2 separate regions of the Homo sapiens genome follow, and region 2 is linked to region 1. The links come from fine-mapping of genetic effects on gene expression. Tissue or cell type: activated naive CD4 T cells. Region 1 holds a variant in brackets; the other region holds the start of a gene. All regions are shown on one strand. Distances are between the middles of the regions.

Region 1 (7,389 bases):
AAGTGGAGGTTGCAGAGAGCTGAGATTGCACCATTGCACTCCAGCCTGGGCGACAGAGTGAGACTCCATCTCAAAAAAGAAAAAAGAGGCATCAGGTCATCCTGCCTGTGACAGGAGGGCACTGCAAAATTACATGGCCAAGGGCATGGGTAGGGGGAAGGGTGAAGAGTTAGGGCCAAATAATGTAAACCTTACCTAATTTCCCACTGGAGAACACCCCCTTTCAGTCAATTACTTTGGGTGGGGCTCCAGCTCAGGGGTGGAGCAGGTGACAAAGACCTCAGCCAATCAGAGAACAACTTTGCCCATTTGGGACTACAGGCATGCACCATCATGCCTGCTAATTTAAAATATTTTTTGTAGAGGCCAGGCACCGGTGGCTCACGCCTGTAATCCCGGCACTTTGGGAAGCCGAGGCAGGCAGATCACGAGGTCAAGAAATCGAGACCATCCTGGCCAACATTGTGAAACCCTGTCTCTACTAAAAATACAAAAATTGGCTGGCCCTGTTGGTGCACGCCTGTAGTCCAACTACTCGGGAGGCTGAGGCAGGAGAATCGCTTGAGCCCGGGAGGCAGAGATTGCAGTGAGCCAAGATTGCACCACTGCACTCCAGCCTGGGCGACAGTGCGAGACTCTGTCTCGAAAAAAAAAGAATTTTTTTTTTTTTTTGTAGAGGCAGGGTTTTGCTATGTTGCCCAGGTTGGTCTTGAACCCCTGGGCTCAAGCGATCTGTCCACCTCAGCCTCCCAAAGTGCTGGAACTACAGGCATGAGCCACTGTGCCTGGTTGACTTTTCCTTTCCAAATGAACAAGTTTGGGTTGAGTTTTCAGTCACTGAGACCAAACTGGTCCCAATGAGTACACCAGTAATCTTAGCCTCAGAGGTGTGCATCTACTCACAGAAGGGCTCAGTGGCTTCCAGTGTTCAAGGTTACTGGATTGCACAGGAGCTGTTATAGGACAAGCCCCGTGGATACTGGTGGCTCAGAGGTCTTACAGATGAGGTTTCACTGGGAACCAATCAGAACTCCCTTATTTGCAAGTAACAGACACCAAACTCGAATGGACTTGTGAGAATATGTTGGCTCATGTAATTGAAAAAGCCACTTGGGGCTGGGCGCAGTGGTTCACACCTGTAATCCCAGCACTTTGGGAGGCCAAGGTGGGGCAGATCACGTGAGGTCAGGAGTGCAAGACCAGCCTGGCCAACATGGTGAAACCCTGTCTTTACTAAAAATACAAAAATTAGTCGGGTGTGTTGGTGCGCGCCTGTAATCCCAGCTACACGGGAGGCTGAGGCAGTAGAATCACTTGAACCCGGGAGGCAGAGGTTGTAGTGAGCTGAGATCGTGCCATTGCACTCCAGCCTGGGTGACAGAGTGTGCTCCGTTTCTAAAAAGAAAGAAAAGAAAAGAAAAGAAAAAGCCATTTGGATTTCAGACACAGATCCTAGTACTCATATAATGCAATCAGAATCCATCTCTCCTCATCTCCTGGCCCTGCTTCATTTACTCTGTGCCGGCTTCATGCCTGGCCAGAATCTCCCTAAGCGGTGGCAAAGGCAGCCACCAGCAAGTCCAGGCTTACATCCCACATGCTTAGCAACTGCAGTGAAAAGAGAACACATTTTCCCCTAATAGGTACACAAAGCCAGGAGCAGCCTAGCTTGGGCTAGGGGCACACAGCTGCTGCTCCGGGATGGAATGTGCTGATTGGCTAGACCTGGGTCATGTGGCCACCCCACAGAGCGAAGGGGTGGGGTCGGCCTCCGCTGAAGGAAGGACTGGTTCAAAGGAAGCTTGGGGTGCTATCACACAAAGCAGAACGAGTGGATGCTGAACAGGCAAAAATAGCAGACGTCCGCTACATCTCATTACTCTTAGCATCTTGTGGTCCTTATTACAATTGTAATGAACTATCACTCCAAATCCTCTACCTTCTACAATCACCTCCCATTTTCCTTTTTTTAAAAAAAGTATCATTATTATTTTTTGTCTCTGTCAAAAAAAAATAATTATTATTATTATATTGTCGCCCAGGCTGGAGTGCAGTGGTGCGATCTTGGCTCACTACAACCTCCGCCTCCCGGGTTCAAGTGATTTTCCTGTCTCAGCCTCCTGAGTAGCTGGGATTACAGGCAGCCACCATTGTGCCCGGCTAATGTTTGTAGTTTTAGTACATGTTAGCCAGGCTGGTCTCAAACCCCTGACCTCAAGTGATCCACCCAGCTCGGCCTCCCAAAGTGCTGGGATGACAGGAATGAGCCAACGTGTTCAGCTAATTTTTGTATTTTTAGCAGAGATGGGGTTTTGACATGTTGGCCAGGCTGGTCTTGAATTCCTGACCTCAGGTGATCCGCCCCCCTGGGCCTCCCAAAGTGCTAGGATTATAGGTGTGAGCCACGGTGCCCGGCCCCATTTTCCTTTACCATCAACATTGAATGACTTTAGCCCACATACTAAGAAAAACCAAGGCCTGGCGTGGTGGCTCATGCCTGTAATCCCAGCACTCTACAAGGCTGTAGTGGGAGGATGGCTTGAGGCCAGGAGTTTGAGACTAGTCTGGGCAACATAGCAAGACCCTGTCCCTACAAAATAGAAATGAAGACATTAGCCAGGCCTGGTGGTGTGTGCCTATAGTCCCAGCTGTCTCAAAGGCTGAGGCAGGAGTGTCAGAGGCATTTGAACCTGAGCGACTCTATCTTGAATAGGGGCTGGGTAAAATAAGGCTAAGACCTGCTTGGCTGCATTCCCAGGAGGTTAAGGCATTCTAAGTCACAGGATGAGACAGGAGGTTGGCACAAGATACAGGTCATAAAGACCTTGCTGATAGACCAGTTTGTAGGCCAGGCACAGTGGCTCACCCCTGTAATCCAAGCACTTTGGGAGGCTGAGGCGGGCAGATCACCTGAGGTCAGGAGTTTGAGACCAGCCTGACAAACATGGAGAAACCCGTCTCTACTACAAAAATACAAAATTAGCCGGGCATGGTGGCACATGCCTGTAATTCCAGCTACTCAAGAGGCTGAGGCAGGAGAATCGCTTGAACCCAAGAGGTGGAGGTTGCGGTGAGCTGAGATTGTGCCATTGCACTCCAACCTGGGCAACAAGAGTGAAACTCTGTCTCAAAGAAAAAAAGAAAAGGGCCGGGTGCGGTAGTTCATGCCTGTAATCCCAGCACTTTGAGAGGCCGAGGCAGGTGGATCACGAGGTCAGGAGTTCAAGACCAGCCTGGCCAATATGGTGAAACCCCGTCTCTACTAAAAATACAAAAATTAGCTGGGTGTGGTGACGTGCACCTGTAGTCCCAGCTACTCGGGAGGCTGAGGCAGAAGAATTGCTTGAACGTAGGAGTCGGAGGTTGCAGTGAGCCAAGATCATGCCACTGCACTCCAGCCTGGATGACAGAGTGAGACTCCATCTCAAAAAATAATAATAAAAATAAAAAATAAATAAATAAATTAATTAATAATAACAATAAAAAATGTTCAAAAAGGAAAACCAGGCCCCCTCCACAATGTCTCTGAGGCATCCCAAGATGGGGCTCCCCATCTCCTGAGTCCACCATGCTCAGCCCACTTCCTGGCTGTCCTTCTCTGCTCTTGGCCTCTGGAGCCATTGCCCCCTTTCTTCGCCTCCAAATCAAAACCTCTGTTTTTGTCCATTGCACCAAATCTCCACTAACCCAAGGCTGGGTGAGGAACAGTCTCCTCCCCTCAGCTGCCAGTAATTACCTCTAAATTACTTTTCTTACACCCACATTTCCACCCTAAACCAGACACTAGATGGGTGTATAGATGTTGACATTTCAGAGAGAGATGCTGTTTGGTGACTCTCCCATGGTGACGTGACCGTAAGTTGAGTAGTCATCTATGGCTCTGTGTGAAGGGTGTCATGGGGTCTGCGATCACTCCTTCCACTAGCCCTTGCTTTGGCCC[A/G]CTTAGCTGTGACTGCTGAGGAGTTGGGAAAATTTGCATAGGCCTCAAGGAGTGTCTTGGGAAAAAAGGAATCAAGGCTACAACTCTCTTTCCTTCTGAAGTTTAATTTATTTTATTATTTTATTTTATTTATTTTAATTTTTTGAGATGGAGCTTTGCTCTATCACCCAGGCTGGAATGCAATGGTGTGATCTCGGCTCACTGCAACCTCCACCTCCTGGGTTCAAGTGATTCTCCTGCTTCAGCCTCCCCAGTAGCTGGGATTACAGGTGCCTGCCACTATGCCTGACTAATTTTGTAGTTTTAGTAGAGATGGGGTTTCACCATGTTGGCCAGGCTGGTCTCAAACTCCTGACCTCAAGTGATCTACCCCCCTCAGCTTCCTGAAGTGCTGGGATTACGGGTGTGAGCCACTGCACCCGGACTTGAAGTTTAATGTTTTTTTTATTTTTTATTTTTGAGACGGAGTTTCACTCTTGTTGCCCAGGCTGGAGTGCAATGGTGCGATCCATAAGATTTAGGTCAAATAGAGAGATACATTTCTGTATATTCATTTTACACTTTTTATTTTTTTGTAGAGACGGAGTTCTTGCTATGTTGCCCAGGCTGGTATCAAACTCCTGGCCTTAAGCAATCCTCCCAACTCAGCCTCCCAAAGTGCTGGGATTACAGGCATGAACCACTGCACCTGGCCTCATTTTACACTTTAATGGACTGGATTTTGCAGTAGTCATGATTAGGAGGGCACTGTGCACCACAAAGCCTAAGAGGTAACTAGCTTATTTGGGGTATTTTGGGAATTTTTTTTTTTTTTTTTTTGAGAAGGACCTTCTCTCTTGTTGCCCAGGCTGGAGTGCAATGGTGTCATCTTGGCTCTGCCTCCCATATTCAAGCGATTCTCCTGCCTCAGCATCCCAAGTATCTGGAGTTACAGGCATGCACCACCATGCCTGGCTAATTTTGTATTTTTTTAGTAGAGAAGGGGTTTCACCATATTGGTCAGGCTGGTCTCAAACTCCTGACCTCAGATGACCCACCCAACTTGGTGTCCCAAAGTGCTGGGATTACAGGTGTGAGCCACTGCGCCTGGCCAACTCCACTGTTAAGGCAGCAGGTGCAGTGGATATTACAGCTATTCACACCCCTGCAGATAAACACAGAAGTCACCATACCACAACTATTCTCCTAACGCTGCCTTCGTCCTGAGCTTCCTGTGCTAGTGGCAAGTCAGATGCAAGGAAAATCCAGAGTAAAAATAAAAAACAATAACAGGCACAGTCTCATCAGACTGTGAAACCCTGTGAACCCTGTGAAATGAAAATTACAGATGTATGTATAAAGCAAGAATTTCAAGGCACACATTCTGACATTAACTTTGTATTAAGTGCCCTCAAATGTACTCTCTTCCCCTCTTTCAGTTCTCAAGGGAAGAGCAAATAACACTCCTTCCAAATAACACTCCTAAATCAACACCTGAAGAATGAATGATACCCTGGGCAAATATAAAACTTGCAGACCTATTTCACCCAATACCATAGAAAGAGAAAACGGTGAACTTAACCCCCTCATTAAAAGCACAAGGGGAGGCTGGGCTTGGTGGCTCATGCCTGTAAACCTAGCACTTTGGGAGGCCAAGGCAGGCGGATCACTTGAGGTCAGGAGTTTGAGACCAGCCTGGCCAATATGGTGAAACCCCATCTCTACTAAAAATACAAAAATTAGCTGGGTGTGGTGTCAGGTGCCTGCAATCCCAGCTACTCGGGAGGCTGAGGCAGGAGAATCGCTTGAACCCGGGAGGTGGAGGTTGCAGTGAGCTGAGATCACGCCACGGCACTCCAGCCTGGGGGACGGTGAGACTCCATCTTACATACAAACACACACACACACACACACACACACACACACACACAGAAGCGTGAGGGGAACTTACTTCTCGGGCGACTCTGAGTGGCCCCTGTGCTTCCGTCCTGATGAGTTTCCATACACGTCATCTTCGTTTTCATCCACATCTTCATCATCGATGCTTTTCACATCAAGCTTCTGGTACCCAAACTCCCTGTTCAAAGACAGGGAATCAATTTTCCACGAGTTGCTGCTCTGACTTCCATTGGAGTTTGGCCCGAAGGGGCTTTCAAAGGCGGACATGATATTGACAGAGGAGTGGTCGGAGTTGTCCTCTGAGCTCTCCCCTGCCCCAGGTGTCTTTTTAAACATGTCCCCAGAGTTCTGCTCATCTTCCTCATCATCAAATGAGATAATGTTGGTCACTTGCTTTTTCTTCTTCCGCTCCTTTTTGCATTTGGCATCTGGCAAAAAAAAAAAAAAGAAAAAAAAGAAAAGATACAGTATAAGAAAAAGTAGGCAAGACAAAAGGATGATGAAACCAACTCACTTCCAGGTTGTGGAAAATACTATTCTAGTGAGAAATACACTGTAACATGAATTCAGACTTTTTAAAATCCTCAGTGAAAATCTGTGTACAGAAGATTGAGCAGAATGGATGCAGGCCTCTCCCACTGATTTAAATAAACACACCACAGAGCACACCTTGAAACTGTTCCTTCCAAGCAGTCACTTTGATGTGAAGGATGCTACCATTACCAAAATGATCTTCAATGCTTCACTTTGGAAAATATTCTCATAGCTGGTAGATGAGACCAGGAGAACCAGCTGGGGGGTGTAGTCAAGTGTTGAGCAGCCTCAAATTCCTGCCATTCCTGTGCAATGCCCCTTTGCAATGGGTCTTTGTGGCTCCTCCCAGCCAGAGGTGATGTCTATTTCTGCACCCTCTTGAATCTGGCTGGCGTAGTGCTCTGCCTTTTTTTTTTTTTTTTTTTTTTAAGAGTTGGGGCATCTCGCTCTATTGCCCAGGCTGGAGTATATTGGTGCAATCATAGCTCACTGTAACCTCAAATTCCTGGGATCAAACAATCCTCTGCCCTCAGCCTCCCGAGTAGCTGGGACTACAGGTGCATGCCACAACACCCAGCTAATTTTATTATTATTTGTAGAGATGAGGTCTTGCTGTGCTTCCCAAGCTAGTCTCAAAACTCCTGGCCTCAAGCAATACTCCCACCTCAGCCTCCTAAATTGCTGGGATTATAGGCATGAGCCACCATGCCCTGCTTTTACCAAAAGAATGTGGCAGAAAGGGCCGGGTGCGGTGGCTCATGCCTATAATCCCAGCACTTTGGGAGGTCAAGGCGGGTGGATCACCTGAGGTCAGGAGTTCAAGACCAGCCTGGCAAACACGGTGAAACCCCGTCTCTATTAAAAATACAAAAAAAAAAAAAAATTAGTTGGGCGTGGTGGCAGGTGCCTGTAATCCCAGCTACTTGGGAGGCTGAGGCAGGAGAATTTCTTGAACATGGGAGGCAGAGGTTGCAGTGAGCTGAGACTGCGCCATTGCACTCCAGTCTGGGTGACAGAGCGAGACTCTGTCTCAAAAA
Region 2 (7,389 bases), 810 kb after region 1:
GGTTTCCATGACTCCCTCCTTGGGTTCCATTAATTTGCAGGAGCAGCTCTCAGCACTCAGGGAAACACTTAGGTTTACTGGCTTATTATAAAGGATGTCACAATGGATACAGATGAAGGAAGAGGTGCACAGGGCAAAGCATGTGGGAAGGAGCGAAGAGCTTCCATACCCACCCTGGGCACGCCACCCTCCAGGAAGCTCCAAACTGGGATACAAACCAGATATATATTTTACAATATCACAGAGTCAACAAACACCCCTTTCAGCTTAGGCTAGTCAGAGTAGCTTTTTGTTATCTGCAACTGAGTAGCTTGACTAATAAGAACTTTCATTAAGCACGGTCTGAAGAGATAGCCAATTCTGAGGGACAAAGGCTGCAGGGTAGAAGCATATGTTAACCACTAATACCCAGCCTAAAATTGCTGGCCCTTTTACTATAATAGCATAAAAGGCCTCAAATAAACAAATCCAAATATCCTACACTTAAGCCACTCTAAGATTAATCCCACAGGGCTTAAAACAGTAAGAGCTTTGTTCTGGGTCAAAGGGAAAGAGGAACCTAATACCCCACACTCACATCCCACACTCTCAACCCAGTCACTAGCAATGAGAATCTGCAAACTGGGTGCAGTGGCTCATGACCGTAATCCCAGCATTTTGGGAGGCCGAAATGGGAGGATCACTTGAAGTCAGGAGTTCAGGACCATCCTGGGCAACACACGGAGGCCCTGTCTCTACAAAAACAAAATAAAATAATTAGCTGGGCAGGGTGGTGCACATGTGTAGTCCTAGCTACTCAGGAGGCTATGGCAGGAGGATCACTTGAGCCCAGGAATTTGGGAATAATGAGCTATAATGGCACCACTAGGCTCCAGCCTGGGTGACAGAGTAAGACCTTGTTTCTAAAAAAAACATAAGTAGGTTGGGCGCAATGGCTCACACCTGTAATCCCAGCACTTTGGGAGGCCAAGGCCGGCAGATCAACTAAGATCAGGAGTTCAAGACCAGCCTGGCCAACATGGTGAAACCCTGTCTCTACTAAAAATACAAAATTAATCGGGTGTGGTGGCACATGCCTGTAATCACAGCTACTTGGAAGGCTGAGGCAGGAGAATCGCTTGAAACCGGAAGGCGGAGGTTGCAGTGAGCCATGATTGCGCCATTGCAATCCAGCCTGGGCAACAAAGAGTGAAACTCCGTCTCAAAACAAACAAACAAACAAACAAAAAATTAGCCAGGCATGGTGGTGCATGCTTGTAATCCCAGCTACTCAGGAGGCTGAGGCAGGAGAATCACTTGAACCCGGGAGGCAGAGGTTGCAGTGAGTTGACATTGCACCACTATACTCCGGCCTGGGTGACAGAGCGAGACTCCATCTCAAAAATAAATAAATAAATAAATAGAATCTATATTCATCAATTGGTTAAAGAGACATTAAGAAGACAATTTTTTTCCTTCATGCCTCTGTATTGCAACTTATGCCAGTGTTTCTCATTTAAACCTTACAGCAATCCTATAAAATAGATAACAGAATAGTAAGTATAGTGAAGAAACTGAAATTCAGATAGGTTATGCTAGGTAACTCAGGAAAAATAGGTAGTTGAGCTGGGGCTGCAAGGCTGCAAGTTCTAAAACCTATGCTCTTCCTCTGAATTCCAAGTTGTGTCACGACTTCAGCATATTCAATAGTAAAAGAGATCACAAAAGTGGAAGCTGCCAACCCACCATTAGGCTATTATGACAACACTCAAAGTATCACCAGTAAAATGATGATTGAGGCAACTGAAAAACAAAGCTAGGGAAATGTGATGGTTAACTTTATGTGTCAAACTGATTGGGCTAGGGGATTCCCAGATAGCTGGTGAAACACTTTAGAGTGTGTCTGTGAGTTTCCTGAGGGTTTGCTTTCCTGGGCTTCCAGCTTGCAGATGGCAAATCTCGGGACTTCTCAGCCTCTATAATAGTGTCACCCAATCCATCACAATAAATCTCTTTTAAAATAGCTATACAGTTGACCCTCAAACAATGCAGGTTTTAATTGTGCAGGTCCACTTATATGTGGATTTTCTTCCACCTCTAGAACTCTTTTTTGAGACAGGGTCTTGCTCTGTCACCCAGGCTAGAGTGCAGTGGCACGATCTTGGCTCACTGCAGCATCCACCTCCTGGGTTTAAGTGATTATTGTGCCTCAGCCTCCCAAGTAGCTGGGATTACAGGCGTGCACCACCACGCCCGGCTAATTTTTTAATTTTTTTTTTTTTTTTTAGAAGAGACTGGATTTCACCACGTTGCTCGGGCTGGTCTCAAACCCCTGAGCTCAGGCAGTCTGCCCACCTCGGCCTCCCAAAGTGCTAGGATTACACGCATGAGCCACCGCGCCTGGCCAGTATTTACATTTAAAATGTGAAACTGGGATTGCGGTGGCTCATGCCTGTAATTCCAGCATTTGGGGAGGCTTTGGTTAGGAGGACTGCTTAAGCCCAAGAGTTTGAGGCTGCAGTGAGCTGTAATAACACCACTGTTCTCCAGTCTGAGCAACAGAGAACGTGTCTCTAATAAAAACAAAAATGTGAGATGATGCCTAGGTTAGAATCAGCAGAGGAGAAGCCAGAGAGAGCAGAGGCAAAGGAAGAGAACGTTCAGCAAGCCAAATGAAAACAGTGTTTCAAGGAGGGGCAGTGATCCACAGCATCAAATGCTGAACAGGACTGAGACCTAACTTAACAATGCATTTGGCCACCTAGAGATCACTGGTGGCTTTGACAAGAAGCCTTTTTAGTGGAGTGGTGGAGACCAAAGCCTGACTAGAGGCTCAAGGGTTCAAGACTTGGAGGAGAAAAGGCATTAGTGAGGGTAGACTAAGGCCTTTGGCTGCAAACCGGAGCCGAGGAGGAGGTAACTGGAGGATAGCGAGGGTGAAGGAGGCTGTTTTGTTGTTCTTAAGACGGGCATTTTTTGGCCGGGCGCGGGGGCTCACGCCTATACTCCCCACACTTTGGGAGGCCGAGGCGGGAGGTTGAGCCTCCTGGGCAAACGACGAGCTGTTAGTGTATCTTGTTAAGAACTATATATATATACAAAATTTTTGTGCAAATCATAAAATAAGTGCTGGAGTTCGGGGCCCATCCTCTGTCCGCATCTTCGTGACCCGGGTCCGAGTACCCCACCTGGAAGCTGCGTCCGTGCCGAGCCCAGCGTGTCGCTGTTTCCCACCCTCGCCGGGGATGGAAGCACGCAAGCGCAGACCTCGAGCGGCCGGGCGCAGGGCCCGCCCTCCCCGAGCCCCGGCCCCGCCCTCCTCTCCCGCCCCCACCCCCACGAGCCCCGCCCCCCTCCCGCCCAGAGCGCGTGCGCACCGCCCCTAGAGCGCCGCCTCAGGGAGGTCGGGAGCCGCGGCGCGGAGGGAGGACTCAGCCCTTCGCTCCCGCGTTTCGCCGGAGGTCTCAGGCCACGGCCCGTCGCCACCTACCGAGTCCGGGACAAAACAAGCTCGTCGGGCTGGAAACTGCGACGAGGGGAGCAGGCGCGTTCCTCGAACCCTTTTTCGGAGTCTGCGGATGATCACAGACCTGCGTTCGAAGATTGGCGGCACGTCGAGAACCGCACACGCTTTTTTTTCCTTTTATGAGCGTAGTCGCGCGCGGAGGACCTTGCACGCATGCGTAGTCGTTCCTCTGTGACGTGACCCGCTGCCCCGTGGGAAATGTAGTTTTCACTTGGCACACCGCTCCGGCTCTTGGCGGAACCCTAATTTAACCAACCAAAGTGCTTGTGCGTTTTCAGCGTTTTCTCCCATTTCCCCAGACTCTATTTAAAACAAAATGCAATAAATAAATAAATAAATAAAACTTGAAAGCGAACAGATTGCTGCTTGCTGGAGGTGGGTGGGCGCAGGGGTAATATGAAAACTGTACTTTCTGCTCAATTTTGTTGTGAACCTAAAAATGCCCTAAAAAATAAAAGTCTGTTGTTAAAAAATTAATTAAAAACAGGCCGGGCGCGGTGGCTCACGCCTGTAATCCCAACACTGGGACGCTAAGGCGGGCGGATCACCTGAGTTCAGGAGTTTGAAACCAACCCGGCCAACATGGTGAAACCCCGTCTCTACTAAAAAATACAAAAATCAGCCGGGCGTGGTGGCGGGTGCCTGTAATCCCAGGTACTGGGGAGGCTGAGGCTGGAGAATCGCTTGAATTCAGGAGGCGGAGGTTGTAGTGACTGGAGATTGTACCATTGCACTCCAGCCTGGGTGACAAGAGGGAAACTCCATCTCAAAAAAACAAACAAACAAAAAACAAGCAGATCTTTAGACCCAGAAATCGCACTTCTAGGGAATCTTCTCAGGAAAGTACTAAGGATATGGACGTGCAATGGACATGTAGCCTCAATGGTATTTTATCGAAAGCCATCCTGGTATCTTAAAGTTTCTTACATAACCTACAAATGTCTGTAATTATTTGTTGATTATTTGATAAACTTGCAAGTCCTATGAGATTGGGATCATCTTGTGTTCACCTGTGTATTCCTAGTACCTAGCACAGTGCCTGGCCATCACATGTTTCTTTTTTTTTCTCTTTGAGACAGGGTCTCGCTCTGTTGTCCAGGTTGGAGTGCAGTGGTGCCATCAGGGCTCCTGAGTAGCTAGGACTACAAGCACACACCAGCACATTCTGCTGATTTTTAAATTTTTTTTGGTAGAGATGGGGGTCTTGCTATGTTGCATAGGCTGGTCTTGAGTTCCTGGGCTCAAGCGATCCTCCTGCCTCAGCCTCCCAAAGTGCTGGGATTACAGGCATGAGCCACCAACCTCAGCCCCGTCAGTATTTTTCTGTTTATTAGAGAATCTCAGGCGTTAGCACTGAAACTATGTTAACCCCAAAATTAATGCATCATTTTCTTCCATCACACTTGCAGTTCTTTCTGTGGGCGTCAGGTCAGTGAATGACATGCCCATCCACCCAGCTGCAGTTCTACTTACTGCCTTTTATGAAGGTTATGCTTTGAGGGATTTTGCAAATTTTGCATTTGTAAAGGTCTCAGGGGCTCTTTTTCCTGATTGTTAAATATCAGCCCTAGCTAGGCCAGGCGTGGTGACTCACGCCTGTAATCCCAGCACTTTGGGAGGCCGAGGTGGGCAGATCACGAGGTCAGGAGTTTGAGACCAGCCTAGCCAATATGATGAAACCATGTCTCTACTAAAAATACAAAAATTAGCTGGGCATGGTGGCACGCACCTGTAGTCCCAGCTACTCTGGAGGCTGAAGCAGGAAAGAACCACTTGAACCCAGGAGGCGGAGGTTGCAGTGAGCCAAGATTGCGCCACTGCACTCCAGTCTGGGCAACAGAGCAAGACTCTGTCTCAAAAAATAAATAAATAAAATAAATTTAAAAAATCAACCCTAGTCACTGATCAGGAGAGATGTAGAGCTTACAGTTGTTTTTTAAATTATTTTGGTCTCTGCCCTGTTTTAAAATTTTATCGTTAATTTCTGATTTTTCTACAATAAACATGTATTTATTAACTTTTTAAAAAGTGTTTTAGAGTGTTGTCCACATGTAAGGAATTGCTCTGTCTTCTCCACATCCACATTTCTCAAAAGAATCATCTATACTCAGTTTTCATGTCCCACCTCCTACTTAGTACAATGTCCTGAGCCAGCACCTGGGGGTTATCCCTGACATCACCCTTTCCCTCCCCTCCCTCATTCAATCCACCACGTGTCTGCAATATAAAAACACATTTGTTAGGCACTTGCTATGCACCGGGCACTGTTCAAAATCCTTTACACATATTCATTCATATAACACAATCCACCTACTTTTCACCTCCACCACATCCACCCTAGGCCAAAGTAGGGACATCTTCCCTAAACAACTGCAAAGGTTCTCTGTTTTTTAATCGCTGGTGCTAAGGTTGAGTTACTTATTTCTACTTAATGACACACTTCGTCATTGGGCTCTGCACGGCCTCTCTATTTATTTGTTATTTTAAAAATTTTTTTGAGACAGAGTCTCACTCTGTCACTCAGGCTGGAGTGCAGACGCGCGCCACGACGCCCAGCTAATTTTTTATATTTTTAGTAGAGATGGGGTTTCACCATGTTGGCCAGGCTGGTCTCAAACTCCTGACCTCAGGTGATCCACTAACCTCAGCCTCCCAAATTTCCTGGGATTACAGGCGTGAGCCAGCGCGCCAGGCCTCAGCCCTCTGCTTTCAACACCTGTCATTGTGGGCACACTTTACCTATGACTTACAGCAACCATGCAATATTTCGAAGTGGGCAGCAACATTTCAGTTATGATGGACCTGTAAGTTGCCTCCAACTACTACTGGCTACCACAAACAATGCCACAGTGAACAACCTCATGCTTATTCCCCTGCGGTCTATATGAAGATTTCTCTGAGATGTATGCCCACTAGTGAGACTGAGCAATGCCATCTTAAATGATCTCCCCTCATCTATTCGGGCCAGAGTGGCACATGCCTACAATCCCACTGCTTTGGGAGGCTGAGGCTAGAGGATCACTTGAGGCCAAGAGTTCAAGGCAACAGTGAGCTATGATTGTGCCACTGCACTCTAGCCTGGAAAACATAGCAAGATCCTGTCTCTACAAAAAAAATCTTTTTAATTAGCCAGGCGTGGTGGCATGCACCTGTAGTCCCAGCTACTACTGAAATTGAGGCAGGAGGACCGCTTGAGCCCAGGAATTCAAGACCAGCCTGGGTAACAGAGTGAGATCTCATCTCTACAAAAAATTTAAAAATTAGCCGGGCGCGGTGGCTCACACCTGTAATCCCAGCACTTTGGGAGGCCGAGGTGGGTGGATCACAAGGTCAGGAGATCAAGACCATCCTGGCTAACACGGTGAAACCCTGTCTGTACTAAAAATACAAAAAGTTAGCCAGGCGTGGTGGCGGGCGCCTGTAGTCCCAGCTACTTGGGAGGCTGAGACAGGAGAATGGCATGAACCCAGGAGGTGGAGCTTGCAGTGAGCCGAGATCGTGCCACTGCACTCCAGCCTGGGTGACAGAGCGAGACTCTGTCTCAAAAAAAAAAAAAAAAATTTAAAAATCAGTCCAGGCGGGGTGGCTCACACCTGTAATCCCAGCACTTTGGGAGGCCAAGGCGGGCGGATCACGAGGTCAGGAGATCGAGACCATCCTGGCTAACACGGTGAAACCCCGTCTCTACTAAAAATACAAAAAATTAGCTAGGCGTGGTGGCAGGTGCCTGTAGTCCCAGCTACTCGGGAGGCTGAGACAGGAGAATGGCATGAACCCGGGAGGTGGAGCTTGCAGTGAGCCGAGATCGTGCCACTGCACTCCAGCCTGGGTGACAGAGTGAGACTCTGTCTCAAAAAAAAGTAAAAATCAGGCCAGGCGGAGTG

Evidence for each region. PIP is the estimated chance that this variant, and not a neighbour inherited with it, causes the effect.
Region 2: it holds the start of SGF29, and the variant in region 1 is fine-mapped to the expression of SGF29 in activated naive CD4 T cells (Schmiedel 2018, PIP 0.95).

Annotation. Positions count from the first base shown.
Region 1 is chr16:29,363,541-29,370,929 of GRCh38, reverse strand. It overlaps the pseudogene SNX29P2. Among named protein-coding and RNA genes, the nearest start is that of NPIPB11, 39 kb to the left of the region's middle. The variant A/G (reference allele first, on the strand shown) is at 3,941.
Region 2 is chr16:28,550,178-28,557,566 of GRCh38, reverse strand. It overlaps SGF29 (SAGA complex associated factor 29), which reads right to left and starts at 3,647. Exons shown (of 10, transcript NM_138414.3): 1 at 3,470-3,647. RefSeq lists a silencer at 3,219-3,338 and an enhancer at 3,359-3,678.